Regions from separate parts of the Homo sapiens genome. Here region 1 is linked to region 2. Evidence: fine-mapped expression QTL. A gene starts in region 2. The other region holds a variant in brackets. All regions are shown on one strand. Distances are from middle to middle.

What was found. PIP is the estimated chance that this variant, and not a neighbour inherited with it, causes the effect.
Region 1: its variant is fine-mapped to the expression of RAPH1 in whole blood (TOPMed, PIP above 0.99).

What each region holds. Positions count from the first base shown.
Region 1 is chr2:203,494,064-203,511,014 of GRCh38, forward strand. RAPH1 (Ras association (RalGDS/AF-6) and pleckstrin homology domains 1) reads right to left here. Exons shown (of 14, transcript NM_213589.3): 2 at 1,171-1,290. The coding sequence starts at 1,290. Among named protein-coding and RNA genes, the nearest start is that of RAPH1, 33 kb to the right of the region's middle. The variant G/A (reference allele first, on the strand shown) is at 7,990.
Region 2 is chr2:203,528,821-203,545,771 of GRCh38, forward strand. RAPH1 (Ras association (RalGDS/AF-6) and pleckstrin homology domains 1) reads right to left here and starts at 6,481. Exons shown (of 14, transcript NM_213589.3): 1 at 6,291-6,481. RefSeq lists silencers at 6,250-6,349, 6,420-6,509, 6,560-6,629.

The DNA.
Region 1 (16,951 bases), 35 kb before region 2:
GCCTTTCAAAATGATCTAGCAAGAATTACACGAAGAGTTTATCACTTTGAATTCTAGATTGCTGCAGAAATAAGCTGCTAGTAATTTAAGCTTCCACCTTGCCCACTTTGCTTTTCCTTTAGTTAAGGAATCTCATACCTACGCAATTTTACACAAATGTTCTTTCCAAAGACATTATTTATGAGTAAATAAGTTTTGTTCTAATGTTCTCATTGCCATGAAGTTAAATTTATTTAATAAACATAACCATCTTCACACAGTGAATATAATGTATTACTGGGGCAATAATAACAGTACCCTTTTATTCTAAAAAGTGTGCTGGTTTAGAGGACAAGGTCACCTTCTTTAAAAACCCAAGATCGAATAAAGCAAAATGAAAAGATTTTGCCACTGTTTTAAAATGCAGCCCAGAATTAGGTTTTGTCAGTATTCTACAATCATGTCATAGAAAATATTTACATGGGGCCAGGCATGGTGGCTCACGCCTGTAATCCCAGCACTTTGGGAGGCTGAGGTGGGCAGATCACGAGGTCAGGAGATCGAGACCATCCTGGCTAACACAGTGAAACCCCGTCTCTACTAAAAAATACAAAAAATTAGCCGGGCGTGGTGGCGGGCGCCTGTAGTCCCAGCTACTCGGGAGGCTGAGGCAGGAGAATGGCGTGAACCCCGGAGACGGAGCTTGCGGTGAGCCAAGATTGCGCCACTGCACTCCAGCCTGGATGACAAGAGCAAGACTCCGTCTCAAAAAAAAAAAAAAGAAAAAAAAAAAGAAAAACAGAAAATATTTACGTGGAAGGAAATTATTTATGTTGAAAATGTATTCAAATTTACTAAGGTAACAGGGTTTTCTAAAATTTAGACTTTTGAATTTCAGGCTTTAAAAGTTTTTAGCTAATTATCTCATATTTATGAAACATATATTAAGTAACCCCTCTAGATGAACAGAGCCTCTCTCACAAGTATTTTTTTTAACATCCTTAAAATAACCATAGATTCTTAATATCTTCTGTTCTAGAATGACTTCATTTACTTGTCAATACTTCGAACATTTCTTCCTTTCTGGCAATACTTTAAAATTTAACTTATATCCATATCCTCTTCTGCACATTAAACTTTTAACACAATGGTGACTTCAAATCCTCAACCAGTTTTTCAAGCACTACTCACCTGAGTGAGTTTGTCTAGTTCTCCAAGCCAGGCTCCAAACATTTTGTCCAGGTCCTGATCTTCCTTGTCACTGTCTTCTTCAGCACCATGATCAATTTCTTCATCTGATAGCTGCTCCATCTGAAATACAGACATTTGTGTAGAATGAATAGTAAGTTACAGGTTTAACTTGAAAAATTATGCCATATATGCTCTGATATATATTATATGCCTCTGAAGTCAAATCTTCAAAACTAGAAATTACATTCTAAAAGAAAATCTTAAGTCATTAATGGAGACAGTGTTCACAAGTGAGTAGAAACAAAGAATAAAGTTTCAAATTTTTTAGGAAACTGTAAAAGAAAAGCCAACAGTATCAAATTATGACCAGAATCGCATTACTAAAAAAATTAACAGAGCACCCCTTTCAATCAGCAGAGGACATAACAGTAGTACAGTTCTCTCCACTACTAGATCCTAGGACACCCAAACACCACAAAGAAGCCATTTCAGAAGACTTTAATGGAGCAAATTATTGTCCTGTTTATTCTGTAAAAATCTGTTTAGATACCAATAGGTACCCTGCAAAACCTTAGTCCAACAAGTATTTAAGAGAAAATTTGACAAAACAAAAATCTTAATCTAGTTTTGTTTCTTTCTATTCTACCCTCCTACCCTCACTTTCTATCCCATTTGTCTTCTTTCTCTACCTTACTTCCTCATCAGTTCCAACAAAACCCAAAAAGGAAACAGAATTGAAAACTTCTAAATCCAGATCCAAATCCTGTTATGTGGTGACTTTTCAAATATAAGTCCCTTGAAAGAAGAAATTATCTTCCTTCTTCCCATTAATAAAATAGTGTGGCTGGGCGTGGTGGCTCACGCCTGTAATTCCAGCACTTTGGGAGGCCGAGGCGGGTGGATCAACCTGTGGTCAGGGGTTTGAAACCAGCCTGGCCAACATGGCAAAACCCCGTCTCTACTAAAAATACAAAATTGGCAGGGCGTGGTGGTGCATGTCTGTAATCCCAGCTACCTGGGAGGCTGAGCCAGGAGAATCACTTGACCCTGGGAGACAGAGGTTGCAGAGAGCCGAGAACATGCCACTGCACTCCAGTGTGGGCAACAAGAGTGAAACTCCGTCTCAAAAAATAAATAAATAAAATAGTGTGATATCTGACATGGAACTTGCACATTATTTTGAGAAGATGGGAAGAAAAATTACATAAAACAATGTAAGATCAATGACTGATTAATCTGATAAATATAAATATTTCAATATTAAAGGCCCTGGAAAATCTTCAAATAAACACTAGCTTTGCTTAAACCAGCCAGCATATTCCAAAATTAAAATTAAAATCAGGCAGGCATGTTAGTATGAACTTGAAACAAATTAAATGTTTTTTTTCTTCAAGTTAGCAGATTATAAACCCTGGTTTACAAAGTTATGGTAGGTATTTTATGTTTCTTAATATCATAGTTACTGACTAAAATCTGATAAAATTTTATTTGTTAGAAAAACCAGCATATTCCTAAGTTATTTGACCACAATCCCTTTTCCTTCAACTTCTGTCCCAGGGACACAATGAACATCATCACCATATGTTACATTAAATACTCTTGACTCACATTTCTAAAACACGAATTTTGTTATGGTAGATCTAGGCAATATTTGGAATATAGCCTGTCAGCTGGTTTAAGCAATTCCTCCAAGATTATATATGGTGTATGGGCATTCCATTAAAAAAGATATGCCTAATCTTTACTAACTTGATATACATATGCCATGGTGTTAATGTGTCCCTTCCAAAACTCAAGTGTTGCCAATGTGATAGTATTAAGGGGTGGGGCCTTAAAGAAGTGATTGGGCCATAAAGGCTCCTTCTTTATTAATGGTATTAAGGATTTTATAAAAGAGATTTCATGAAGCACTGGAGTACTTTGTTCTTCCACTCTTCTGCTATGCAAGAGCACATCTCGTGCCTCCCTGTGGAGGAAGCCAGCAACAAGCCCTCACCAGACACCAAATGCCAGTGTTTTAATAATGTACTTCCCAGCCTCCAGAATAGTAAGAAAATTAATTTCTGTTCTTTATATATTACCCAGTCTCAGGAATTTTATTGCAGCAGCACACATGGACTGGTATCTTCAAAGCAGCAATCCACAAAATTATATCTGGGATCCTTAAAGGTTAGGAGAAAATGTAAGGAATCTAATTATCTGACATGGTATCATCAAGTTAAATTTTCAATCTTATTTCACTATATAAAATTTTGCAGAAAGGGTCAAATAATGTTACAAAATTAAACTGAATTTAGTTTTCAGATGCTGAAAATCATATCATATCTCATTTAATTACTTAAGGGAAATAATTTTCTAATTCTCCTAATACTGGGAAGAACCACAGCTAACCAATATCTCTAATAAATATATCTCTAATAGAAACTGATAATTTCCATTTCTTAATCTTTTATCACTCTAATCATATATAAATCAGGTCATTCTACCCTGGCAAGTGAAAAATGGATCTACCAATTTCCCAATTCATAAATGTGATTCTTAAGAAGATTTGGTTTTTACAATTTGTAACAATATTATTTCTAAGATTTTATTCATTACTATATAATTGATAGGTCAATCTCAACAGAAACTTGGTATCAGAGTTCATTAAGTGATCTACCCAGGAAAAACATAAAATGTTACTGAAAAGAAAAACCTCATCTGACCAGATGACTTAATTACTCAAATAGGTGCTAGTTTGAGAACACTCAGGAGCAGTAATAGCCAGTTTTCATAAAGAAGGTTAATAAGTAATATAATCTGGAATATACTTGCTTTTACTTCCTAATCTTTCAAACTAAACACATTGGAATAACCCAGAAAATATCCTAGGAGGAATTCTGTTTTGAGAGAGTAATACTTATTCTTAATTACATTTTATATCTCTTAAGTACATTTAAAACAACTGGGCCTGCAGCACTGTTGTCCAACAGATACCATTATGTCACTATTGGCAGAAACAGCAGCTTTAGTAACTTTAATGAGTATTTTAGGCAATAATACGCAAGGCACTGGGTTTATGGTGACTATATTCTCCATAGTAAAAATGTGGTCACATGATATTTAGGTGACTCATCATCAGGAAAATCTGTGATGTATGAACATCGTAACACACACTAAGAGGAAGTTATAATCAAAGAGAACAGGGAGAGAACATTAGTCATAAGCCTCCACGAACCATTGTGATAGGCAGGTATTATATCATTCCCATTTTATAAATGAGGAAAGCTAATCAGAAAGGGTGGCAAGCTCCGTTCTTGGAGAAGGGCTTAGAGGACAGCACTCCAGGTCTGCTGTTTCAAACAACACCTCCGATTTCAGGCATCTTACAGATAGGGCTTCCACATTAGATATCATTTAAACCAAGAGTTCAAATTTTTAAAAATGATTTTAAGAAAGGTTTAAATCCTGGACTTCTGAGAACAGAGTGTAACTGCCCATAAAAAAAATGCCATACTGGGAAAAATAAAACAACACGAAAATAACATTGTAAGATAAATATAAAATAGTTCAAATTAAAGGAATAATTTAAATTACAATGGAGCCAAAGAGAACTACAGTCATGTGCTCATAATGATGTTCAGATCAATGACAGACTGCTTATACGGTGGTCCCATAAGTATTTTTACTGTACCTTTTCTAGGTTTAGATACCATTGTATTACAATTGTCTATAGTGTTCAGTACAGTAACATGCTGTACAGGTTGTAGCCTAGGAGTAACAGGCTATACTCTACAGCCTAGGTGTGGAGTAGACTATACCACCTGGGTTTGTGTAAGTACAATTTATTATGCTGGCCCAACAAGTGCTTAATGAAGCATTTCTCAGGAAGTATCTTCATCATTAAATGACACATGACTGTACAGACTCTGCATCCAAAGCTAGCGTGTTTTAAACTGAGTTTTTTTCCTACTGTTCAAACAGGCTATTTTAAAAATCCCTTTAAAAATTTTCATTTATAGTTTTGTTTTGATCTAGACTACTACTGCCGACTTAAGGAAAATATCGCTAGAGAACATGACAGCAATGACAGAGAAACATAAAATTAACAGAAATTTTGAAAGTATCTATTGAACGTTAACTACTTAAGTTACTTTTGCCAATTTTGTCCTATTTTCAATTTGTCCCTATGTGGATTAGTTTAACAGCAACAAAAAAAAAAAAACTGGCCGGGTGCAGTGGCTCACACCTGTAATCCCAGCACTTTGGGAGGCCAAGGCGGATGGATCACCTGAGGTCAGGAGTTCAAGACTAGCATGGCCAAGATAGTGAAACCCCGTCTCTACAAAAATTAGCTGGGCATGGTGGCGGGCGCCTGTAATCCCAGCTACTTGAGAGGCTGAGGCAGGAGAATCGCTGGAACCCAGGAGGCAGAGGCTGCAGTGAGCCAAGATCGTGCCATTGCTCTCCAGCCTGAGTGACGAGTGAACTCCATCTCAAAGAAAAAAAAAACTTAAGAAACTTACTCAGAGACTTTCCAAAAAAAACTTAGGTCCTACAACATTTCTTAAAGAATTCACACTCTAAAACCACTCTCCATTCTCTAAATGCTGATGTTGATGAACCTTATTCTCCAATTCCCCAATACAGCTTAATTTCCACTAACCATACACATCAAATGAGGTGCCCCCAGACATTTTCTTATAGGCTGGGCACCATCTTGGGTCAGCCCTCTAAACTTAAAACCACATGAACATGCTCAGATACAGGACAGCAGAGTGCTATCAGAGCCATTTCCATGGGTCTAGAGTGCTCAATGTTCCAAAGACACAAGAGAAGCTTTGATTTCATTGAACATTCACCATGCCAGACACTGGAGGAACAGAGATGAACATGACAACCTCTGTCCTCAAGGAACATATAATCTAGTAGGGAACAGAAAAGGAAACCAACAATGATGAAACACTCTGTTAAGTGCTATAAAAGAGGTATGTTAAGTGAGCGTAGTTTAACTCAGTTTGAGAAGATAGGAAAGTGGTGATGCTTCAGTGGAGACCTGAAGAGTGAATATGTAAGAGAAAGGAGAAGGGTGTTTTAGGCAGAGGAACCAACATATACAAGGGTATAAAGACGTGAGAACAACATGTTAGAACTCAAAGTGACTTAGCATTTCTGAAGCATAGGATGGGTGGTACAGACTCATGGAAAATGAGGCTAGAGAGGAGGAAGCGGCAAAATCCTAAGCCATACCAAAAACTTTGGACTTTATCCTGTAGGGCAATGTTATTCCAATTGTGGTTTGTTGATGACCTGCATCAAAATTACCTGGGGTGCATCTTTTAAAGTCAGTTTTAAAATGGCCCACTCAAGATCTACTGAATACTAATGTCAAGAGGATGGAATATTTTCAACAAGTTACCCAGGGTATTGCTTATACTCACTTAAGTTTAACAAAATATAAACAACTATGTTGTTTAATAATTACTGGGAGCTCTTGCAAGACAGTAAGTAATGCCATTTTGTGTAACCACAATTTGGTTAAAGGTAAATGTGGACTCCTTAAATAAGTACTAGAATGAGTACTCCTTAAAACCATAAGGAAATCAGGTACCATGAGGATCCATCATTAACACACCCCAATTATTCCTCTTCCATTACCATAGTCTCATGCTTCCTCTCACAGTTATTCATTTACAGATAAATTTTAGTTCTTTATTTCCAGTTATGTTTCAGTAGCTTTCTCACAAAAATGGTTTTAGAAACACCTCCTATGCTGTTCTAACCTTAAAAATAATTCTAAAGAAAAACATGCACTAGAGAAAGGGGCAGGAGGGAGGTGAAGACTTCCATGTTCAAGGAGTACCCCAACTGTGCAAGTTACAACTGTTGCAAAATAAAAGCAAGAGGAAGGAAACGTAAATCAGACTAGAGAAACAATAAGAAAAAAAATGTTAAATTTAGTAAGGCACAAAAAGAGGAAGAGGACTCATCAAAAGGAGGAGAGAGGAAGTCAGAGCAGAGAAGGGAAAGGAAAGGAAAGAAGTAGGACACTCATAATGTAAAATGGAAAGATAACTGTAGGGGATTAATTACTTATCAGATGGGGCAGTGCCTGGTATGCTTGGTTTCTTTCTCTCATTACCTACAACTACACTATTTTAAAACAAGACCTTTAGTTCTGCTGTGAATGAAGTGCTGTTATTTATAAATTGCCCAAATGGAAACTGGGAATTTAATAAACCGTCTGGGAAGTTTTAAAAATGAATTTGCATGGTCAGGTATGGTGGCTCACGCCAGTAATCCTAGCAACTTTGGGAGGCCAAGGCGGGCAGACTGCTTGAGCCCAGGAGTTTGAGACCTGCCTGGGCCACATGGCGAGACCTCATCTCTTAAAAAAATAAACATAATTTTATAACTTTTGCTCTTAATTTATAAAGTAGATGAGTTAAAAAAAAAAGTTAAAAGTTGCTTTTTATATATCCATCACTGAAGTTTCCTCTGTAGATTAGTGACCCTCAATAGAAAGGGCCTACAGAAAGGTTCTACTTAGGATCCAAACCTTCGAAAATACTCTGCCTACAAAGCATCAAGCTAAGCATTATGAAAAAAAAAAAAAAAAAAGGCAAAAAAACAAATACAAATTCTGTAACTTCAAAGAACATTAATACTAACTGTGGGAGAACAGGGCTCCCTGCAGCCTTGACCTTCTGGGCTCAAGCAGTCCTCCTGCCTCAGCCTCCCTGAGTAGCTGGGACGACAGATATAAGATATCTTGATTAACAAATTCTCTAGCAACAAAGTTCCTTTTGTAGACCAGTGCATGAAGCAAATTTAAAGGAA[G/A]CTACAGTCTCCTATGTGTTGAAAGGGACTAAGAAGGAAGCAATGTGCTATGCTATTCAGAAGCTTCATAGAAGCAAGCCTGAATTAACTAGCTACCAGGGAACTTGCATGGATGGCCTGGTCCTCAGAGTGAGCTGACACCTGGAACTCAGTTTTGTAAAACTGCCAGATGGAACCAAACCTTCCTAACAGAGAGGTATGCTATTCTTGGGCCAGTCACGGTAAATTCTTCTTTACCCAGAGGACAGAGAAGTACTAGGAAAGATGATTTACACCCTTATGCCATCTCTTTGATTTAAGCCTTCATTTCTGACAACCCAGGATGTAACTAACACATCCTCTTCACTATCATCTACATTAACTGTGAAGTAATTTAAGATCACATAATGAAGCATAAAAACAAACTAGAACTATTTTAACAGTTGGTAGAGATTGTATTGCCTAAGAGTTATAAATCAAATTCAAAGGCAATTTTATTAATGTTTTATTTATCAGGCACTTAAATGAACCCCTTAGAAAAAGAATTTGGGAGGCCGAGGCGGGCGGATCACGAGGTCAGGAGATTGAGACCATCCTGGCTAACACGGTGAAACCCCGCCTCTACTAAAAATACAAAAATTAGCCGGGTGTGGTGGCAGGTGCCTGTAGTCCTAGCTACTCGGGAGGCTGAGGCAGAAGAATGGCGTGAACCCTGGAGGTGGAGCTTGCAGTGAGCCGAGATCTCGCCACTGCACTCCAGCCTAGGCAACAGAGTGAGACTCCGTCCCAAAAAAAAAAAAAAAGAATTCCTTTTACAGAAAGGTGAACCAGGCCGGGCACAGTGGCTCACACCTGTAATCCCAGCACTTTGGGAGGCCGAGGCAGGCGGATCACCTTAGGTCAGGAGTTCGAGACCAGCCTAACAAGGTGAAACCCTATCTCTACTAAAAATACAAAAATTAGCTGGATGTAGTGGCTGGCAGGCACCTGTAATCCCAGCTACTCGGGAGGCTGAGGCAGGAGAATCACTTGAATCCAGGAGGTAGAGGTTGCAGTGAGCCAAGATCCCGCCATTGCATTCCAGGCTGGGTGACAGAGCGAGACTCTGTCTCAAAAACAAACAAACAAACAAACAAAAAAATGAAAATATGAACCAATTTTAATGAGAATAAGCATTCCTTTATTTACATTAGATTTTCATAATATTGGATATTCTTAATCTATTAAACCGCAAACAGGAACTCCCCATCTGTATTAGTCTGTTTTCATGCTGCTGATAAAGACATACCAGAGACTGGGAAGAAAGAGGTTTAACTGGACGTACAGTTCCACATGGCTGGGAGGGCCTCAGAATCATGGCAGTGGCAAGACAAAATGTGAAGAAGCAAAAGTGGAAACCCATGATAAACCCATCAGATCTCATGAACTTATTCACTATCACAAGATTAGCACAAGAAAGACTGGCCCCCAAGATTCAATTATCTCCCCCTGGGCCCCTCCCACAACACATAGGAATTCTGGGAGATACAATTCAAGTTGAGATTTGGGTGGGGACACAGCCAAACCATATCATTTGGCCCCTCCAAATCTCATGTCCTCACATTTCAAAACCAATCATGCCTTCCCAACAGTCTCCCAAAGTCTTAACTAATTTCAGTATTAACCTGAAAGTCCACAGTCCAAAGTCCCATCTGAGACAAGGCAAGTCCCTTCTGCCTATGAGCCTATAAAATCAAAAGCAAGCTAGTTACTTCCCAGATACAATGGGGGTACAGGTATTGGGTAAATACAGCCGTTCCAAATGGGAGAACTTGGCCAAAACAAAGGGGTTACAGGGCCCATGAAAGTCCAAAAGCCAGTGGGGCAGCCAAATTTTAAAGCTCCAAAATGATCTCCTTTGGCTCCAGGTCTCACATCCTGGTCACGCTGATGCAAAAGGTGGGTTCCCATGGTCTTGGGCAGCTCTGCCCCTGTGGCTTTGCAGGGTACAGCCTCCCTCCTGGCTGCTTTCACGGGCTGGCATTGAGTGTCTGAGGCTTTTCCAAGTGCACAGTGCAAGCTGTCTGTAGATCTACCATTCTGGGGTCTGGAGGACAATAGCCCTCTTCTCACAGCTCCACTAGGCAGTGCCCCAGTGGGGACTCTGTGTGGGGGCCCCAACCCCACATTTCCCTTCCGCACTGTCCCAGGAGAGGTTCTCCATGAGAGCCCCACCCCTGCAGCAAACTTTTGCCTAGGCATCCAGGTGTTTCTATACATCTTCTGAAATCTAGGCCGAAGTTTCTAAACCTCAGTTCTTGACTTCTGTGCACCCGCAGGCTCAACACCACATGGAAGCTGCCAAGGCTTGGGGCTTCCACCCTCTGAAGCCACAGCCTGAGCTCTATGTTGGCCCCTTTCAGCCACAGCTGGAGTGGCTGGGACACAGGGCACCAAGTCCCTAGGCTGCACACAGCACAGGGATCCTGGGCCCGGCCCACGAAACCACTTTTTCCTCCTGGGCCTCTGGGCCCTGTGATGGGAGGGGGCTGACCTGACGGTCTCTGACATGGCCTGGAGACATTTTCCCTGGTCTTGGGGATTAACATTAGGCTCCTTGCTATTTATGCAAATTTCTGCAGCTGGATTGAATTTCTCCTAAAAAAAAAAAAAAAGTTTGTCTTTTCTACTGCATCATCAGGCAGAAAATTTCCTGAACTTTTATGCTGTTTCTCCTTTAAAACAGAATGCTTTTAATAGCACCCAAGTCACCTTTTGAATGGTTTGCTGCTTTGAAATTTCTTCCATCAGATACCCTAAATCATCTCTCTCAATTTCAAAGTTCTACAAATCTCTAGCGCAGGGGCAAAATGCCGCCAGTGTCTTTGCTAAAACATAATGAGAGTCACCTTTGCTCCAGTTCCCAACAAGTTCCTCATCTCCATCTGAGACCACCTCAGCTTGGATCTTATTGTTCATATCACTATCAGCATTTTTGTCAAAGCCATTCAACAAGTCTCCAGACAGTTTCACACTTTCCTACATTTTCCTGTCTTCTTCTGAGCCCTCCAAACTGTTCCAGCCTCTGCCTGTTACCCAGTTCCAAAGACACTTCTACGTTTTTGGGTATCTTTTCAGCAACGCCACACTCTACTGGTACCAATTTACTGCATTAGTCCATTTTCAGGCTGCTGATGAAGACAAACCTGAGATTGGGAAGAAAAAGAGGTTTAATTGGACTCACAGTTCCACATGGCTGGGGAGGCCTCAGAATCATGGTGGGAGGCAAAAGGCACTTCTTACATGGCGGTGGCAAGAGAAAATGTGGAAGAAGCAAAAGTGGAAACCCCTGATAAACCCATCAAATCTCATGAGACTTATTCACTATCACAAGACTAGCACAAGAAAGACTGGCCGCCATGATTAAATTACCCCCCCCGGGTCCCTCCCACAACACAGAGGAATTCTGAGAGATACAACTGAAGTTGAGATTTGGGTGGGGACACAGCCAAACCATATCACTAAAGTGGAAAAATACAATTTAGTTCAACGCTCTACAAAGAAACCCCTAACATCCCTATATATAAAAAGTTCTGATTATCTTATAATTAACTATTACACAATATGCCATAAAGCATTATCTGAAACCACAGAGTAGATAAAAAACTATAAAAACTGAAAAACAACAAATAATTGATTGTGTTGTTTATATTCCAGATTCTCAATTTCAAGAGCTGTGAGACAGTAAATTTCTGTTGCTTTAAGCCACTCAGCGTGTAGTAATTTGTTACTGCAGCCCTAGCAAATGAATAGTTACTATACACACACGCGCGCGCACGCACACACACACACGGCTGCTCCACACTTCAGACCTTTTGCTGTTATACTACATAGTGTAGCTATTTAGTTATTTTTGCAGACAGCTGATGTTGTGCATGTCCACTCCAGCCTCAACTAGAAGTAGAAGCTGCAACTTCATTCCTCTTAGAGAAAACGGTCTTGAAACTATGGAAAGCCTCACGAGGGAGGCAGCAGTATTTTTCTTCACTTTTGTCCTACCTATTCCCCTACCAGATGGCCAAACGCACTGGCAAGAAATCCAATCCCAGAGGCAACCCATGCTTTGAGAGGAAAGGGGGTAACAAATAGACGTAGCCTATAGCTTGGAAGTCATTTGGATTAGGTATTGAATTATCAGTATAAATAAACTCAAGGTTTCAAACAGACAAAAAGATGGGCAGAAATAAAGACAGAGATGTGTGTATTATGTGTTTGTAGGTATGTCCACTGAAAAAGCCTGGTGGCAATGACACCAGGTAATTAATTAGCACACTTGGTTCCCAGTTTTTGGTTTCAAAATACTGTATACACTCTACACAAAAAGTAACAGACACCTGGAGTAGTAATTCCAGGGCAGGGCAGGGAAAAAAAACAAGATGAGATCTTGCAGTGAGCAGAGATCGTGCCACTGCACACTCCAGCCTGGGCAACAGAGCGAGACTCCGTCTCAAAAAAAAACAAAAAACAAAAAACAAAAAACAAGATGAGCCTCTAGAACATCATCTAGTGGCAAAAAGTCCTCAATTAATGATAGGCACATGTCAAATGGACACAGGAACCAGCCTGAAGGCCCAGATCAGGGGTCTAATCTGTGAAAAGTTAAATACTGAAATAAATTATGATAGAAACAAATTATAATCCACTGACTAAAATCCATATATAGATATATATCTATATATATATATATCTATATATATATCTATATATATCTAGATATATATATCTATATATATATCTATATCTATATATCTATATATATATCTATATCTATATATCTATCTATATCTATATATATATATATATATATATAGATATATATATATATATATTTTTTTTTTTTTTGAGATGAACTTTCACTCTGGGTTGCCCAGGCTGGAGTGCAATGGCACAATCTCAACTCATTGCAACCTCCACCTCCCAGGTTCAAGCGATTCTCCTGCCCCAGACTCCCAAGTAGCTGGGATTACAGGCGCCTGCCACCACACCCGGCTAATTTTTTTATTTTTAGTAGAGACAGGGTTTCACCATGTTGACCAGGCTGGTCTTGAACTCCTGACCTCAGGTGATACGCCCACCTCGGCCTCCCAAAGTGCTGGGATTACAGGTGTGTGCCACCGTGCCTGGCCACAAAATCCATATTGAATTAAATAAAATATACACAGTAAAGAAGAAAGCTCTTACTTACTGTAGAATGCCAACTACTTAATGTAGATGAAATGACAAAAAAAAATCACCATTTTGCAACCACTGTTATAATTATAAAGTATTTATTTTAAAAGTAATTTAAAAACCAAGTTGCTAAGTTTTAAAAAATCAAGGCAAGAATCATCAATAGAGGCTAAAACTAGTAGGTGAAAATTTGATGACATATATTCTCAAAATATCTCCCCACAAATTACTCAGAAGACAACCTTAACCAAGTGACCAAAATATCATCACTACAAAGGCAAACCAACATCAGAGGGTTCCAGTTATAATGCATTGGGAAGGATACAACATCACTGTAGTTATTCCTGCAAAAAATGCAGTACCTGAATCAAATCATAAGAGACATTTTACAAAATAATTGGCCAACACTTTTCAATAATGTGATGGCCAAGAAACAAAGAAAGGCTAAGGAAATGTTCCATATTCAATGGAACTTAAAGAGACATGACAACTAAATACAATGCTTGAACCTGGACTGGATCTTAGACCCAGGGAAAATATCTAAACATAGCCATAAGGACAATGTTGGAACAGTTGACAAAATATGACTGGATTAGATCACAGTATTGAATCAATGTTACATTTCCTGATTTTGATAACAGTATTGCAGTGACGTAAGAGAACATCTTTGATCTTAAGAAATATACACTGGGGCCGGGCACGGTGGCTCATGCCTGTAATCCCAGCACTTTGGGAGGCTGAGGCGGGCGGATCACCAGGTCAGGAGATCAAGACCATCCTGGCTAACACAGTGAAACCCCATCCCTACTTAAAAAAAAAAATACAAAAAAATTAGCCACATGTGGTGGTGGGTGCCTGTAGTCCCAGCTACTTGGGAGGCTGAGGCAGGAGAATGGCGTAAACCCGGGAGGCAGAGCTTGTATAGTGAGCTGAGATAGCGCCACTGCACTCCAGCCTGGGCAACAGAGCAAGACTCTGTCTCAAAAAAAAAAAAAAAAAAAAAGGAAGAAAGAAAGAAATATACACTGGGGTTACAGGCATGCACCACCATGCCTGGCTAATTTTGTATTTTTAGTAGAGACAGGGTTTCTCCATGTTGGTCAGGCTGGTCTCGAACTCCCAACCTCAGGTGATCCGCCTGCCTCGGCCTCCCAAAGTGTTGGAATTACAGGCGTGAGCCACCACGCCTGGCCTTGAGGTTGTTTATATTCTTCTTACAACTTTTCTGTAGGTTTGAAATTACAGTTTTCCCTTGGCACCAGGGGGACTGGTTCCAGGACCTCCACCTATACCCAAATCATGCATACTCAAGTCCAGTAAACCCTCCATATACGTAGGTTTCACATCACCACAATGATCCATGTTTGGCTGAAAAAAAATCTGCATACAAGCAGACCCACACAGTGCAAACCTGTGTTGTTCAAGTGTCAACAGTATATCAAAATAAATTAAGAAAGAGAGAGATGAAGGAGGAGAGATAAAAAGAAAAAAGTCTTTACCCTCAGAAAGCTATAATTAGGAAAACAGTGTGTTAACAAATAGATCATCTAAATTTCAGAAATAAATTTAAGGAAAAGGAAAAAAAGACAAGCTATAAAACACTTTTACTAAATTAATACGTTTAGTCTAAGGACACTGAAAAATAATTGTGTATTTCTCCAATATATGGTTTTTATTATGTATGCATATGCTCCCTTTCCTAAAGTATATTTGCCTTGCTTACTCAGTTAACCTTTTTAGCTTATTTATAAAAATTTAGCATCTTAGAAAGATATTTATTCATCAGACATCCTTTCACAGATGCAAAAAGAGTCATTTAAAAAATAATTTTTTTTTTTTTTTTTTTTTTTTAAGAGAGAGTCGCTCTGTCACTCAGGCTGGAGTGTGGTGACACGATCTTGGCTCACTGCAACCTCTGCCTCCCAGGTTCAAGTGATTCTTGTGCCTCAGCCTCCTGAGTAGCTGGGATTACAGGTGCACACCACCACACCTGACTAATTTTTGTATTTTTATAGAGATGAGATTTTGCCATGTTGTTCTCAAACCCCTGGCCTCAAGGGATCCAACCACCTTGGCCTCCCAAAGTGCCTGGATTACAGGCGTGAGCCACCACACCCGGCCCTAAAAAAATAAGTAATTTTTTAAAAAGTTCGTTAACATCACAAGTAGGTCAGAAAAAAATCAGAATTCGGTTCCAAATCCAAAGTTAGTATTTAATTAAATTGAAATGCTTACAGTAAATACAGACTTCAAGATGGGTATTTTTAAAGATGTTTTGATTATTAAAACTGTGTTACTTTTGTTACTGTCAGAACAAAAGGAGTAAAACAGTAAATCACTTCTATTTTGCATTATTCATTAACATATTTCCTGACCTCTTCCCAACATCCAGATAGGAGGTATTACTAAAGTTGATCAAATATCCCCCACTGATATAGTTTGGATGGGTATCCCTGCAAATCTCATGTCAAATGTAATCCCTAATGTTGGAGGTGGGGCCTGGTGTGAGGTGATTGGATCATGGAGGTGGTTTCTCATGAATAGTTTAATACCATCCCCTTGGTGCTGTCCTCTCAATAGTGAGTTCTTGTGAGATGTGGTCATTTAAAAGTGTGTGGCACCTCCCCCCTACTCTTGCCCCTGCTCCGGCCATGTCACCTGCCTTGTTCCCCCTTCACCTTCTACCATGATTGTATAAGCTTTCTGAGGTCTCCCCAGAAGCAGAGCAGATGCCAGCATCATGCTTCCTGTATAGCCTGCAGAACCATGAGCCAATTAAACCTCTTTTACTTATAAATTATACAGTCTCAGGTATTTCTTTATAGTAATATGAGAATGGCCTAATACATACAACCAAAAAAGCTTCAAGATGTCTGCTTTCTGTTTCTATCTCATAAATGTAAAATTCCTAGGAAAGACATTTTACCACTCATTACTGATAAAAGATACATTTAATACTGTCGGCGCCTGCCTGTAATCCCAGCTGCTCAGGAGGCTAACGTAGGAAAATTGCTTGAACCTGGGAGGCAGAGGTTGCAGTGAGCTGAGATCATGCCACTGCACTGCAGCCTGGGTGATAGAGCAAAACTCCATCTCAAAAAAAAAAAAAAAAAAAAAAAAAGTCCTCTTGAGGTTCTTGAGGGTAATAGGAAGTAATCCCTTACCAAAGGCTGTAGTAGAGGTAGGGACCATTCATAAAGAAGCCAGAGGATTAAGAGAATAGAAATGGGAAAAAGGATGCTCTGCAGGAGAGCAGAGAGTATTCTCCAGGGTGGCATCCCCCAGGCAATTAAGACATTTTCTTCCAGGGTCACTGAAACTACAAAAACAAACTCTCAAACCTGGGATGCAAACTCAAATACCTGCAGGGGTCAGGCAGCCAATATACATACTGGTGGTGGTAGTTAGATATAAACCAATAGGGAGTGGTGAGGTCTGGGAACTGTGACAGCACACCTCAGCTAAAAACACTAGAATTTTTTAAGTTTATTCTGGAATTAAGATAGTGGTGAAGGTTGCATGACCTTGTGAATGTAATAAAACTCACTGAGTGTACACTTTAAAAGAGTAAATGTTTGGGAGGGTGAGGCAGGAGGATTGCTTGAGCCCAGGAGTTCGAAACCAGACTGGGCAACATAGCGAGACTCTGTCTGTATTAAAAAATAAATTTAAAAAAAGAGTAAATATTATGTATATCTCAATTTAAAAAAAACTAAAAGTTTAAGTGTGTGCTAGTTAAACAAGAGAGGAGTTAGATGCCACTTCCTCTGAGAAG
Region 2 (16,951 bases):
CATTTGTTACAATATGAAATAAACCAAATGAGCCAAGAAATAATTATCCTTTATAAAGTAAACATTATTGGAAAATTAGAACAAATTATATTTGGGAAACATGCAAAATTTGGGATATATAAAGAATATATTTTCAAGTCATATTACTGGTTGTTTTGCTATATATATATATATATATATATATATTTTTTTTTTTTTTTTTTTTTTTTTGAGACAGGGTCTCACTCTGTCATTGCAGCCTTGACCTCCCAGGCTCAGGTGATGCTCCCAATCTCAGCCTCCCGAGTTAACTGCAACTACAGGCACACATCACCATGCCTGCCTAATTTTTGTATATTTTGTAGAGACAGGGTTTTGCCATGTTCAGGCTGGTCCCAAACTGGGCTCAAGCGATCCACCTGCCTCAGCCTCCCAAAATACTAGGATTATAGGCATGAGCCACCGCACCTGGCCTGCTCTACTGATTTAACCTAATACTTTTCTTCACTTATCAAACTCAGTAAAATCCTTCTAAAAGTAATTTCCAAAAGCATCCAAGTTTTTTATTGGTTTTGTTTTGAGACAGAGTTTTGCTCTCGTTGCCTAGGCTGGAGTGCAATGGCGCCATCTCGGCTCACCGCAACCTCCACCTCCCAGATTCAAGCAATTCTCCTGCCTCAGCCTCCTGAGTAGCTGGGATTACAGGCATGCGCCACCACGCCCGACTAATTTTTTGTATTTTTAGTAGAGATGGGGTTTCTCTATGTTGGTCAGGCTGGTGTCAAACTCCCCACCTCAGGCAATCCACCCACCTTGGCTTCCCAAAGTGCTGGGATTACAGGCATGAGCCACTGCACCCGGCCAAAGTTTTAAATACCATTGCAAAATTGACTTAAGATTCTACAATAATACTGGGCCTACTGAATATGTTTACAGTCCAATTTTTGCTAGCTATCACCATTCTTCACCATGGGGCTTAAATTTTAATAGTCTAACATAATGGTAAATCCTTGGCTTCCTGATCTTGTTTTTCTTCTCATCTAAAGGGATGACTTGTTCCTCCTTTTGTAAACTTTATCTGTTCACCCATTTTCAACTCAAAGACCCTTCTGCTTCTTTGTGGTCCCTGCGTCTTCAGTGTCATCTTCTACTGATTCCTCGTATTTTATACCTAAACTGGCATCCTCTCTATTGTGGAGAACAGAATACCTATCTTAGATTTCTCTATTATGCCTAGCTCTGCTTAGAGCAGAAAAACAGTATGCATTTTATTAAGAGCAAATACATATATACTTTTCAAAAAGCCAATTTATAAGACATAAGTGATATAGTTTAAGACATCTGCCTTAAAGCATGAAAAATACCTTAATAGCAAGAAGAGCATATGAAAAAGCTTTAGAGATCATACAGTCTGGAGTTTTAAAAACTATTTCACAACAAAACTCATCCAGATGAAATTTTACACAGCCTCTCAAATATATAAAGCTGGCAAAAGCATTGCTATTTTATGTTCAAATACATTATGTTAATTTATTGTAAACTCAAATAAAGAGATAAACTAAGGGTTAGAGATGTTAAACAATCCATTTATTTTTGTATGCTTTGTTTTGATTTCACCCAGGTAAGCAGTTGCAGCTCTTAACAGTCCCATCTACAGTCTTCAGGATACTCTTCAAATACACTGATCCAAATGTTTTAAACAATAAAAGGAAAAGCTTTATTCTTAGGAATTTCTGCCCCATCGCACCCCCAAAATTAGCCACGTATAACCATGTAGCACTATGGTCTTCAATGTGTTAAAAAAAATTTAGGCCAAGCGTGATGGCTCACGCCTGTAATCCCAGCACTTTGGGAAGCCGAGGTAGGTAGATCACCTGAGGTCAGGAGTTCAAGATCAGCCTGGGCAACATGATGAAACTCTGTCTCTACTAAAAATACAAAAATGAGCTGGGCACGGTGGTGCATGCCTGTAATCCCAGCTACTCGGGAGGCTGAGGCAGGAGAATCGCTTGAGCCTGGGAGGCAGAGGTTGCAGTGAGCTGAGATTGTGCCATTGCACTCCAGCCTGGGCAACAGAGTAAGACTCCATCTCAAAAAAAAAAAAAAATTATATACACACATGCATACATATAAATATACACATGTGTATATATGAATGAGTATGAGTGCCAGAACCATTCAATGGGGAAAGGACAGTCCTTTCAACAAATGGTGCTGGGAAAACTGGATATGCAAAAGAATGAAGTTGGACCCTTACCTAACACATTTGCAAAAATTAATCCCAAATGGATCAAAGACCTAAACATAAGAGTTGAAACTATAAAACTCCTAAAAGAAAACAGGGAAAACCTTCATGACATTGGATTTGGCTACAGCCTCTTGGATATAACACCAAAAGCACAGACAGAAGAAAAAATAAATTGGACTTCCTCAAAATTTAAAACTTTTGTGTTTGGGGAGTGGGGGGCTGGGGGAGGGATAGCACTAGGAGAAATATCTAATGTAAATGACGAGTCAATGGGGGCAGCAAACAAACATGGCACACGTATACCTATGTAACAAACCTGCACGTTGTGCATATGTACATCAGAACTTGAAGTATAAAAAAAAAAATTTGTGCAAAAGGATACTATCAAGACAGTGAAAAGATAACCCATAAAATGGGAGAAAATGTTTGCAAATCATATATTTGATAAGGGATTAATATCCAGAGTGTACAAAGAACTCCTACAACTCACCAAAAAACAACCTACTTTAAAAATGAGTCAAGGACTTGGATAGACATTTCTCCTCAGATATACAAATGGACAATAAGCATACGAAAAGATGCTCAACATCCCTAATCATTAGGAAAATTCAAATCAAAACCACAATGAAATACCACACCACGCCCATTAGAATAGCTATTATCAAAAACATAAAAAGAAAAAACACTAGAAAAGAAGTGTTGGCAAGATACAGAGAAACTGGAACCTTTGTGCATTGCTAGTGGGAATGTAAAATGGTGCAGCTGCTGTGGAATGCAATATGGCAGTTCCTCAAAAATTAAATATAGAATTAGCATACAATCTAGCAATCCCATTTCTGGGTGTATAGAAATACTGAAAAAAGAACCGAAAGGAGGGATTCAAACAGTTGTATACCAATACTCAAGGCAGCATTATTCACAGTACCCCAAAGGTGGAAACAACCCAAATATCCATAAATGTGGTATATACATACAACGGAATATTAATCAGTCTGAAAAAGGAATGGAATTATGATACATCCTACATGGATGATCTTGAAGACAGTGTGTTAAGTAACATAAGCCAGACACAAGAATCAATATTGTGTGAGTCAAAAGTAGAAAAGTTGTTACTAGGAGGGTAGGGTAGAGGGAGGGAAGTGGATAGTTACTGTTTTGTTTTTGAACAGGGTCTCACTCTGTCACCCAGTGTGCATGATCATAGCGCACTGTGGCTTGTAGAATTACTGTTTAATGGGAAGAATTTCAGTTTGGGATGATAAAAAATTTCTGGAGATGGTGGTGATGATGGCACAATAATGTACTTAAGCCACTGAACTGTACACTTAAAAATAGTTAAAATGGTAATTTGTATGTTATGCATACTTTACCACATTTCTTTCAAAGAGTATATGTGTGTGTTGCTTTAGTGGCAGTGTAAAAACATGGTTAAGAATACAAGCTTAAGAATTAGGCTGCCCGGTTTCAAATCCAGCTCTGCCACTATAGCTCTGCAGTCTTTGGGCAACTTATTGTCTGTGCCTATTTTCTCAAATAATAGACTCTATTTCATAGGGTTATGGCGAGAATTAAATAAATTATCACATATAAAGTGTTTAAAACAGTGTACGTCATACAGTGGCCACTTTTTATTATTATAAGTTTAAAATACATTTTTATTGAGATTAAAGTCAAACATCTGCAGAATCTCTGAAATTCTCAAGTTCAGTGAAACAGTTTAAGAAGCAGTGATCTAATCCAAACTTCTCATTTTATAGGTAAAGGAATTAAGAGTCCAAGATAAGTTATCTGCCTGAGGTCACATCTTGCTTCACTAATATTAATTTTCCTAAAATTAAGTGTTTGGGATTAACAATACTAATGTTGACATTCAATTACTTCCAAACCAAGGCAACCAAAGCCATGAGATTCTACAATGTGTAACCAAGAATCTGTGAATAGTGTGACAGTTATCCACGATGCCAATCTAGTAAGTATTTATGGGGTGAGCACCAAAGGGCAGCAAAACCAAAAGACATAATCATCCTCAAAGACAATGGTTAAAAACACCTCTTTGGAAAATAAAGAGTTAAATATTTGTGAAAACACACCCAATAGTGCCCACTACTCCACTCCTTTCACCCAGTCACATACTCTATAATCTTAGTGAGACCTCTGAGTCTGAAAAATAAGCTGCTGCTTCTACCAAATAAAGCTAACGTTTATCATAAGGCAACATCTACAAATAATTCTTTATTACATTCAAACAGGAGACAGCAATCTAAATTATACAAAATGTCTAACCCAAAAAATCATGAATTAAGCTTTTTGTACTTACTTGAGTAGGGCTGCATCTGGTTTCTGGGAAATTCACCACACAAAAAGCAAAATAACGGAGACAATCTTTGAAGGTCAGACTCAACAAGAGTTAAAAGCTATTGAGCGTCTCTATTTTGCCCCTCCCCCAAAGGTCCTCCCCCTCAATTCGGCTCTCAAAGGATAGCACCACCATGTGAAATGTCCTCCTCCCCATCTGAATCTGCTGAAATCCTACTCATCCTTAAAGGTTTCACTTAAATGCCGAGGCTTCCATGCATTCCTCCCTCAATTTAGAATTAATCTCTCTTCTTCGCTCTCCTATTCTATACCTCAACATTTTACTATATAGTTCACTGTATTACACTTACCTACATTCACTAACCCCCCGCACCGCACCCCCAAAAAAACCACCCCGAGGAGGAAAGGAATTTAAGGTGCTGTTAAACACCTCTATGCCAGGCAAGGTGCTACGCATTTTGCATACATTATCTCATTTAATCTACATGAAAAACATCTGGGGAGGTAAACAGGTGGTGTTATTCCCATTTTACTGATAGGGAACGTACTGCAGAGTTCAATAGCTTATCCAACTCACATTGCAAGCCAATTCCAGGGCGTACGGTTTCCCCCACTCCGAAGAGCTCTTTCCACCACCCCATGCTTGTTCACCTGGTGTCACCCAGCCTAACTGACAGAGTAGGTATTCCATAAATGTTTGCTGAATTTAATATCCCCATGGACTGACTCTTTAATAATCCGATCACGCCTCATCCCTAACCCGTTACCTTTACTGTTCCTTAACGGTGGACTTTACCTACATAAGCAGCTCTCCACATTTCCCTGAGAAATGCTGCAGACAACATCAACCCTTATTGGAAGATTGAGTGAAGAACTTTTCCATTCTCCCGGATTTCCCCAACGGATCTTCCCAAAGAATTTAAGAAATGCACACACGCAAGACACATGTAACACTTACACCCTCCCTCAAGGCTCTTATTTCATATTAAACCATGTCTTCGAGCTTGTAAGCAATAAGGTTTATGCGGTTTCCAGCTCACACAGTGGGGACACCCTAAGTCACTGCCTTAAGAAAACCACATCTTTCAACCTGTCTTAACACGAAGGCATCCTAATACTATCACACTGCCCCCTCCCTCCGTCCACCCCCCCCCCCCCCCCATGAATTGCAGTTTGGATTTCCGGCGGGAATGTATAATACAGACCGCAAGAGGAGACGCGGTTAAAAAGCAATGAAGCAATTACTTATCCTGTTTAATTAGAAAGAAGACACAGAAGGAGCCCCGCCTTTCAAAATCTCTGCACTGAACTCATCTATGAAAGATGGGGGCATCGAAACCCAAGCAACCCGACATCCAGTAGCTGGTTTCTGCAGCTGGGCGGGGGAAAGTCCTTTCCTCCCTGCGGTCCCGGGCCACCAGCCCCCGGTGCTGGGTCGGAGAAGCCTAACCGCACCCTCCCAGGCGGCCCCTTATCTCATTGTCTCCCTCCGTCGCGGTCCCCAGGGGCGCAGGGTGCAGTCCAGGCCCCACCGACCTCCATCCACCAGCCGGGAGCGGTCCAGCCAGCCCCGGCCCGATCCCCAACCTGGCAACGACCCCGCCCCAGGCTGCCGCCGACCGTACCGCACCCGGATGGCGGGGCCGGGCGCCGGGAAAATGGAGGCGGGAGCGGCAGGAGCGCCTCACGGCCCCGCGCCCAGCCGGCTCCCTACCCCCTGGCCCCGAGGGCGAGGCTAACCACTCACCGCGGCAGTCGGTCGGCCTTCCCGCGGCCCCGGGCAAGGAAACCGCCGCTCGCGCTCCTCCAGCCGCTGCCTCCGCCTCCTCCCCAGGCGCGGCGCTCCCTCGCCAGAGACGCAGCGACTGCCAGCAGCTCCCGCGCCGCGCGCTCAGTGACTGACTGACTGACTGACTGACTGACTGACTGACTGACTGGCGGGCGGCGGCGGGAGCGGGGGCGGGGCGGCCGCAGCGCCCCGCGGCGGCGGCGGCGGCGGCGGAGCCGAGTGTGCTCGCGTCCAGCCGAGACGCAGAAGGCGGGGTTGAGGGCCGGACTGCCGACTGTAGGGCCGACTCGCGCGGGACCGCGCGCCGCCCCCGCCCGCCGCCAACCACTCACTTCCGGCGCAGGCCGCCGCGCCCGCCGCCCTTCCCTAGCCCGCGCCCCGCGCCGGCCCTCCGCCCTCCCTTCAGGCGCCCGGCCGCGCCCGGCCGCACTCAACCGCGGCTCCGCTCGTGCCTCGCCTTTCCTCCGCAAGTCCCTGTGAGCCGCCTACAGGAACGAGTGAATCAGAGAATGAATGAGTGGGGAGGAAAATCCCAGTGCTGCCCCACCCCCTGCTCGCCTTTCATAGGAAGCCGGCCCAGCAGCCTCTGTCCTAGCGCCCTGGGAGGCACAGCAGCCTCCAGCAGTTCTGTCAGGGAGCTGTACGCATCCACCTTTATACGCTGTCCGTGTATTCAGAGACTCCAGAAACGCATCCGGGGTTGGCTCGGTCACTTACAGGACCATTGTCGTTGAGATCTGTGAGGCCCTTCTTTAGGAAATCCCATTTTGGCCAAAAAGTCTCTGCAGTTTCATGGAATGTATTGGGAAACTTAGGAACGGGACATTTCGATGACCTTTACTTTTTAAACTTCGAAATCTGTTAATCCTGCCTCCTTAATTTCTGTCCCCCCACCCCATCGGAATTGTGTAGTAGTAAGGTGTCGGCATTTTTCCTTATCGCTAAGCTCAGCTGCTGCCTCTTTAGATGCAGGCTTGACTTCGGCAGACTTTTAGATTTTAAGTATGTCCTTATTTTGACCTTCACCTAAAGTTGATCAAAGAAAGGAACAAATGGAACTAAGTTATGTTTGCTTGGCTACATGCAAAGCAAGTTTGTTGACAGCATTAAAACAATTGAGAAATTGGGAGTGTGACCTGAAATTGGTTGCAATGAACATTGCTTTTTCATGTCTTCCCATCTGCTTGCTAAGAATTTATTTAAATTTTCACAAAGCATTGACTGTACATTCCTGAAATCCTAGCTCCCTCTCTAAGAATGAGAGTGTTCATTTCTCTGTCCTGGGGCCAAATCCTGGTTTGGTTAATTACATTCTTACTTCCTGATATTCTTGAGGACTTTCAAGTGGTTTCAGTCTTTTTTGTACAATCTGTTCCAAACTGGTACACAATCTGTTTCAAATTGGTATTTAGAACCATACAATACAGATACTGGCTGCCTTTCACACTTGAGATATCTGTACTTTTGAAACATAACTGCCCTTTTGTATTTTAAGTTCAGTAGGTATGTCAATATTCTTGTATAGAATAATACTATCTCTTGACTGGATTAAGAAAATGTGGCACATATACACCACGGAATACTATGCAGCCATAAAAAAGGTTGAGTTAATGTCCTTTGTAGGGACATGGATGAAGCTGGAAACCATCATTCTCAGCAAACTATCGCAAGGACAGAAAACCAAACACCACATGATCTCACTCATAGGTGGGACTTGAACAATGAGAACACTTGGACACAAAGCAGGGAATATATCACACAGGGGCCTGTTGGGGGGATGGAGAGGGGGGAGGGATAGCATTAGGAGATATACCTAATGTAAATGATGAGTTAATGGGTGCAGCACACCAACATGGCACATGTATACATATGTAACAAAGCTGCACGTTGTGCACATGTACCCTAGAACTTAAAGTATAATAAAAAATAAAAATAATAAAAGAATAATACTATCTCTTATAAATGAAGATGATCCTGCTGACCAACTTCTTTTAGACTTCTCTTCCTTTCTTGTGGGAATCATCATTTGCCACCTAATTATTTCAAGAAGTTATCCTCCAAAAGTGAATATAATACAACACTTTATTCATCCTTGTATCTCCCACAATATCTAGCATAGTATCTTGCACAATAAGTATTTATAAATTAATAAATGCTTTAAAATTTTTCATAAGTGATAATTTTATACAAATGTATCTAGTCTTTCACCTCATTTCCCTTGTGACCAAGTTTGTTGACATTAGACACACCTGGGTGCCAAACTTAATGAATCCTATTGTCATTAAATGTACTAGGCTGTGTGATACCTTACAAGGAAGATGATTCATTTAAACCTCCTTAAAAAAATAGACGATTGAAGCCAGGAGTGGTGGCTCGCACCTGTAATCCCAGCACTTTGGGAGGCTGAGGTGGGCGGATCACCTGAGGTCAGGAGTTGGAGACTAGCCTGGCCAACATGGTGAAATCCCATCTCTACTAAAAATACAAAAATGAGCTGAGCATGGTGGCGGGTGCCTGTAATCCCAGCTACTCAGGAGGCTGAGGCAGGAGAATCACTTGAACTTGGGAGTGGAGCTTGCAGTGAGCCAAGATCCTGCCATTGCACTCCAACCTGGGTGACAAGAGTGAGACTCCATCTCAGAAAAAAAAAAAAAATAGACCATTGAGTGCCTTTTACATAGGTCTTAGCCAACTCTTCTCCAAGTGCTTAGCCTAAGATCAAGGTTAATTAAAAGAGAAAAAAGGTCACTTTCAGTCATTGAGAAAAGAGTGTTCTCATCAGTTTCTTTAAACCATTAAATCATTCGTTCATTCAATCAGAGTTTATTAAGCTACAATTAAGGCCCAGGAATACAAAGACAAGAAAGACGTGGCATGATGCTTCCTGCCTACAAAAAGCATACAGTCTAGTGGGTAAAGCAGGTAAGGAAGTCATTGTTAGACTGGAAGTCCATTACCAGATCAGGAAAGCCTTCCTGATGGGGAGATTCTTGAACTGAATGTTAAATGATAGGGAGGAGCTAACCAGAAGAAGGAGGGAACAAGCATTCCAAACGAAGAAAACAATATCTCTGCAGGTGTGTGGAAGCACCAAGCATCACCATGCTTTAGAGGCACCGTAAGTGTATTAGTCCGTTTTCATGCTGCTGATAAACACATACCTGAGACTGGGAAGAAAAAGAGGTTTAATGGACTTACAGTTCCACATGGCTGGGGAGGACTCACAATCATGGCAGAAGGTGATGAGGAGCAAGTCACATCTTACATGGATGGCAGCAGGCAAAAAGAGAGCTTGTGCAGGGAAACTCCCATTTTTAAAACCATCAGATCTCATGAGACTTATTCACTATTATGAGAACAGCACGGGAAAGACCCACCCCCATGATTCAACTATCTCCCACTGGGTCCCTCCTACAGCAGGTGGAAATTATGGGAGCTATAAGATGAGATTTGGGTGGGGACACAGAGACAAACCGTATTAGTAAGTAATTCCATTTTGTCAGAACAGGCATAGAGAAGAGTCAAAGAGGTTGGAGGAAAGGGTAGGAAGGGCTTCATTCATGAAGGGGCTCTTGTTAAACTAAGGAATTTGAATTTGATACTCTGGGAAATGTAGTAAATAATAAAATATTTGAAGTATTTTAGCTCCAGAACAACTGAGTTTGTGTTTTGGAGACCAAGAAGACCAGACTGGAGCAGGAGAAAATTAGGAGGTGATGGCAACAACCTGAATCCTAATGAGATGTGTGCTGCAGGTCTCAATAAAATCAAGAGGTCATAAAATGGCGAGGAGGGACTAGATGGGAGATATATTAAACAGGTAGAATCTACAGAATATATAACTGGATATGAGGGAGTGAATGCAACAGAGACATTTAGAATGACTCTCAGGATTCTGGTTTAGAAGAGTGACTGAATGGTGGTGACCTCTGAAATAAAGAGCGTGGGAAAAGAGCAGGTTTCAGGGAACTGGCTGAATACCTGTATGAGAAAGAATAGTACCATAAATCCAGGCATCTTAGTCCATCATTTCCCCAAGTGTTCTTTGGAACTCTAGTCCCACAGGATTTTAGTAGATGTGATTCCCCCTCAAAATTTTAAGTTCCTTTAATCAAATGAGAATGCCAGACAGTTCAATGGGTTTCTAAACTAGAGAGATTTCTGGTGGTTTTAATATTTTAATGTGCACTGGGAATTTCTGAGGTAGATATTATATACAAGCGCTTTCCAAATGTATTCAACCATGAAACCCTTTTTCCAATGGAACATCTTACAAGACATGTGTTCCACAGCACATACTTTGGGAAATGCTGACCTAAACCAGATTTTTGGTTTATAGTAAAGGAAGCTGTAGCTTAAGGCATGAAGTGACTTGTCTAAAGTTAAACAGCTATTACTAGAAGATACTGGACTAAGGTCCAGTATCTTCTGACCCCAGTCACATTCTCTTTCCAGTACATACTGCTTTATGAGTTACAAACTCAATTCCAGCACCTTCCACCAATCATGGGGAGAGGAATAAAAAATTATGGAATATATCGTTTTAAATGATGTTTCCAATCAGTCATTTTTAAAGATATGCTAATTTTTAATGGTTAATATTTTACATAAGATAAAAAGATTTGTACATTGGAGAAGTGGGACCGATTATCACCTTCATATGATCTTTCTGATAATTGAACAGGAGACTTATAAAATTAAATTGCCTAACTAAATAGAATATTCATCTAGTCGTCCTATCCCTGAAGTAGCTTTAAATAAAATAAACTTTCAGGAATTGATAGAAACATTAAAACTCTCCCCAAAAATATTAGTGTTTTTTTGTTTTGTTTTATTTTGTTTTTTTGAGACGGAGTCTCACTCTGTTGCCCAGGCTGGAGTGCAGTGGCACAAACTCGGCTCACTGCAAGCTCTGCCTCCCGGGTTCACGCCATTCTCCTCCCTCAGCCTCCCGAGTAGCTGGGACTACAGGCGTCCGCCACCACGCCTGGCTAATTTTTTGTGGTATTTTCAGTAGAGACGGTGTTTCACCGTGTTAGCCAGGATGGTCTCGATCTCCTGACCTCGTGATCCACCCACCTTGGCCTCCCAAAGTGCTGGGATTACAGGCGTGAGCCACCGCGCCTGGCCAAATTTTAGTGTTGATTTTATTCCACCTGCACATGGAAGGAAATGTCTGGTACTATGAAAATCCACACCAGATTTTGACTTCCTCTCTGGCACAATTCCCATGATTCTGAAAACTCTAATAGCTAATGGATGAGAGAGTTTTCTTATCCTAAATTCATATTCTTAATTCTCAAAGGAGGAATTTTAGTACTGCCTATTCTTAGAAAAATGAGACAATATTTTTTTTCAGGAGACCTCTTAGGACTCTGGGACAAATTTTAAGAGTAGCTTCTATAGATATTATCTTTGAAACAAGTTATCAGCATTTTAATTTATGTTTCGCACTTTATAAAGTATTTGTTTCATTTCTGAATGCTATATTCATTTTTAGTAGGCAGATCAAGACAATCATATGCGGTGTAAATATGTTGAGTGAATGAGTAATTAATTACTTTATTTTTTATTTGTTTTGGAGACAGAGTCTCACTCTGTTGCCCAGGTTGGAGTGCAGTGGCACAATCTCAGGTCACTGCCACCTCTGTCTCCCAAGTTCAAGCGATTTTCCTGCCTCAGCCTCCCAAGTAGCTGGGACAGCAGGTGTGCATTACCATGCCCAGCTAGTTTTTGTATTTTTAGTAGAGATGGGGTTTTACCATGTTGGCCAGGCTGGTCTTGAACTCCTGACCTCAGATGTTCCACCCACCTGGGCCTCCCAAAGTGCTGGGATTACAGGTGTGAGTCACTGAGCCCAGCCAGTAATTACTTACTTTAAAACTTCAGTAGCTATACGTCATGGAGAAAACACTATTATTATTATTATTTATCTTATTTATTTGTTTTTTTTTGTGTGTTTTTTTTTTGAGACGGAGTCTCACTCTGTCACCCAGGCTGGTGTGCAGTGGTGGTATCTAGGCTCACTGCAAGCTCTGCCTCCCAGGTTCACGCCATTCTCCTGTCTCAGCCTCCAGAGTAGCTGGGATTACAGGCGCGTGCCACCACGCCCAGCTAATTTTTTGTATTTTTAGTAGAGACGGGGTTTCACCATGTTAGCCAGGATGGTCTCGATCTCCTGACCTCATGATCTGCCCGCCAAGGCCTCCCAAAGTGTTGGGATTACAGGCGTGAGCCACTGCGCCTATTATTATTTTTGAGACAGAGTCTCGCTCTGTCACCAGGCTGGAGTGCAGTGGCACGATCTCAGCTCACTGCAACCTCTGCTTCCTGGGTTCAAGTGATTCTTCTGCCTCAGCCTCCCAAGTAGCTGGGACTACAGGCACACACCACCATACCCAGCCATTTTTTTGTATTTTTAGTAGAAACGGGGTTTCACTATGTTGGACAGGATGGTCTCAATCTCTTGACTTCGTGATCTGCCTGCCTTGGCCTCCCAAAGTGTTGGGATTACAGGTGTGAGCCACCGCGCCCAGTGCAAAAACACTATTATTAATCCATTTATCAAATTAATTGCATTTATTTATTTAATATTCACTGCGTCTCCAGCTGTGTCTAGAATCTCTAGAGAAATACATGAAATAGTCTCTGATTTTTAAAAATCATTCCACCCATCGTTGACAAGGATGGGAAGAAATAGGCACTCTCACACCTGCAAGTGGGAATATAAATCATTGCAACCTTTTTCTATAGGGCAGTTTGGCAACAGATATTCAAAGGAGTAAGAACAAAACATTAGCTGGGATATTGTGGGATGATGACAAATATTTGGAAAGCCCCTAAATGTCTAGCCATGGGAGGTTGTTTAAGAAAATGAAGGCTGTGGCTGGGTGCGGTGGCTCACGCCTGTAATCCCAGCATTTTGGAAGGCCGAGGCCGGCGAATCACCAGGTCAGGAGATCGAGGCCATCCTGACCAACATGGTGAAACTCATCTCTACTAAAAATACAAAAAATTAGCCAGGCGTAGTGGTGCATGCCTGTAGTCCCAGCTACTCAGGAGGCTGAGGCAGGGGAATGGTTTGAACCAGGGAGGAAGAGGCTGCAGTGAGCTAAGATCATGCCACTGCACTCCAGCTTGGTGACAGAGCAAGACTCTGTCTTAAAAAAAAAAAAAAAAGGACAGAAAATGAAGGCTGAGCATGGTGGCTCACACCTGTAATCCCAGCACTTTGGGAAGCCAAGGTGGGCAGATCACCTGAGGTCAGGTGTTCAAGATCAGACTGGCCAACATGGTGAAACCCCGTCTCTACTAAAAATACAAAAATTAGCTGGGTGTGGTGGCGTGCACCTGTAATCCCAGCTACTTGGGAGGCTGAGGTGGGAGAATTGCTTGAGCCTGGGAGGCAGAGATTGCAGTGAGCCAAGATTGCACCACTGCACTCCAGCCTGGATGACAGAGTGAGACTCTGCCTCAAAAAAAAAAGAAAGAAAGAAAGAAAATGATGATTTGTAGATTTTTTTTGATAATGAAAAGATGTTCACAATATGTTGATTAAAAAGTTACAAACATTATGTACAATATGAACCCATGAGAAAACATATGGGAAAAACCTAGAAGGAAATGCAAGAAGACAAAGTGTTTATTGCAGAGTGGTATGATTGTGGTACTTTCTTTTCCTACTTTATCTTTTAACAACAAATTTGTATTCTTTAATTGACAATTAAATGAATTGCACTGTCGATATTTATGAAGATAAATCTCTTAAAATGTTGAGGAAAACAACAATATAAAATGTATATTATTTAAAAATAGTTGATTTTACTTTATTTTATTTATTTATTTATTTTTTGAGATGGAGTTTCTCTCTGTTGCCCAGGCTGGAGGGCAGTGGCGCGATTTCGGCTCACTGCAAGCTCCACCTCCTGGGTTCACTCCATTCTCCTGCCTCAGCCTCCCGAGTAGCTGGGACTACAGGCGCCCGCCACCACGCCTGGCTAATCTTTTTGTATTTTTAGTAGACACGGGGTTTCACCGTGTTAGCCAGGATGGTCTCGATCTCCCGACCTCGTGATCCACCCACCTCGGCCTCCCAAAATGCTGGGATTACAGGCTTGAGCCACCGTGCCTGGCTGATTTTACTTTAAAAGGGGATCTCTACATTCAAGAAATTTTACTCACGAGACAAGAACATATGAAATAACCAGAGAACAACTAAATATTAAGCTCTGATACAGACTGTAAGTACAGTAGGAGTTAAGGGAAGAGGGAATTCAACAGACGTTAAAGCAGGTTAAGATAACTTCATGGAAAAAATGATACTTAGCTGACACTTAGAATCTGAATGCCAAGAGGAGAAACAGAGTTAGGGGTAGTAATACAGGGGTGAATCAAGGGCCTCATATGGCCCAAATCAGAGACATCTCATTCCTCCCAGTCAAACATTAACAACTGCAGAACACTTGATCCTTGCCTTTAAGTATATTTCTGCTTCTTGCATGTGAGATTTAAATACCCTACATAATATAAATACGTAGTAAACAGAGTATGACATACCTACACCTAATAAAACAATTATTTTAGTTGTTTTTTTCTAAAGAGTAGCCCTTTTGGGCCAGGCACGGTGGTTCACGCCTGTAATCCCAGCACTTTGGGAGGCCGAGGCAGGTGCATCACCTGAGGTCAGGAGCTCAAGATCAGCCCGGCCAACATTGCTGAAACCTCATCTCTACTAAAAACGCAAAAAAATTAACTGGGCATGGTGAGGCCACCTGTAGTCCCAGCTACTCAGGAAGCCGAGGCAGGAGAATCGCGTGAACCTGGGTGGCAGAGGTTGCAGTGAGCCAAGATCGCACCACTGTACTGTAACCTGAGCGACACAGCAAGACTCCATCTCAAAAAAAAAAAAAAAAAAGTAGTCCTTTTGGGGAGGCTTTTTATCTGCAAAATCTATAAAACTGGACATTTCCAGGTATTTACTTAGAACTAATACAAACTATTATGCAAGAGCAGTTATCACAATAACCTGAATCCTTGTGAATGTTCTGACGTCCGTACCAGTCAGACCACAAATGAATTCAACCAACCAGAACTCAGCAATTATCTGATTACACACACGTTAGAGTGCAATTATTAAGCCAGCTTTCCAAGGTGATAACTAAACTGCTACTAGTAGTAGTAGCTATACATATTAGAGTGAGTGAATGACTTGTGTTTAGTACCTAATAATAAACCAAAAATATTACACCCATCTCAAAAATGCCTGCAGTGGGAAAGAATGGCAGAACCTGAACTTCCATCTTTTTTGTTTGTTTGTTTTTTCAGTAAACACTGGGAAAAATTGTTTTATTAGAGCTGAAGAGGTCTAATAACCAATGCAGTAGAGTCCATTTTTAAATGTGCCAGTCATTTTCCCAACTCCACACCCTTGCAATGACTTCATTCCCTCTGTCTAGAATGTCCTTTTTTCCTTCTCTGTTTGGTCTGCTCCTACTAACTACAGTTCAGCTGTCTCCTCTTTCATTCCCAGTTCCCCTAGATAAAGCTATTTGCTACATCCTATGTGTTCTCAAAAAACTTTGCACATTGGTATTAGAACGTTTCGTGCATGCGTCTGACTCCTCCGAAAAACCATGAGTTCTTCAAAGGGCAAAGACTGTGACTTACTCAGACATATATTTTCTTAAGCACCTTGCATGTTGTCTTGTACACAGAAAAGTTCAGCAGTATTTGTCAAGAAAAGGATGATGAGAGATATGGTTAAGAAAAGTCTGACAACATTTTTTTTTTTTTTAGACAGGTTTTCGTTCTTGTTGCCCAAGCTGGAGTGCAATGGCGCAATCTTGGCTCACTGCAACCTCTGCCTCCCAGGTTCAAGCGATTCTCCTGCCTCAGCCTCAGTAGCTGGGATTACAGGTGCGCCACCACACCTGGCGAATTTTTTGTATTTTTAGTAGAAACGGGGTTTCACCATGTTAGCCAGGCTGGTCTCAAACTCCTGACCTCAGGTGATCCGCCCGTCTCGGCCTCCCAAAGTGCTGGGATTAGAGGCGTGAGCCACTGTGCCCAGCAGAAGTCTGGCAACATTTTGAAGATAGATCGGATAAGGAAAACAATCAGAAGGCTGGTTGTATTAATGCAGGCATGAAATGATGAGAAATGAGAAAGCAGGGAAATTGAATTACATTTGGAAAAACTGACAGACACAGGTGACAGATTGGACAAGGGTAAGAAGATTGGACAGATTGGACAAGGGTGAGAAGAAGAAAAGTCCGGCCGGGCGTGGTGGCTCACGCCTGTAATCCCAGCACTTTGGGAGGCCGAGGTGGGCAGATCACGAGGTCAGGAGATCGAGACCATCCTGGCTAATACGGCGAAACCCCGTCTCTACTGAAAAATACAAAAAAAAAAAAAAAAAAAAAAATTACCCAGGCGCGGTGGCGGGCGCCTGTAGTCCCAGCTACTAGGGAGGCTGAGGCAGGAGAATGGCGTGAACCCGGGAGGCAGAGCTTGCAGTGAGCCAAGATCGCGCCACTGCACTCCAGCCTGGGTGACAGAGAAGAATACTGAAAGCAGAGGACTGACAGCATCACTGAATCAACAGATAGATACCAAGTGCT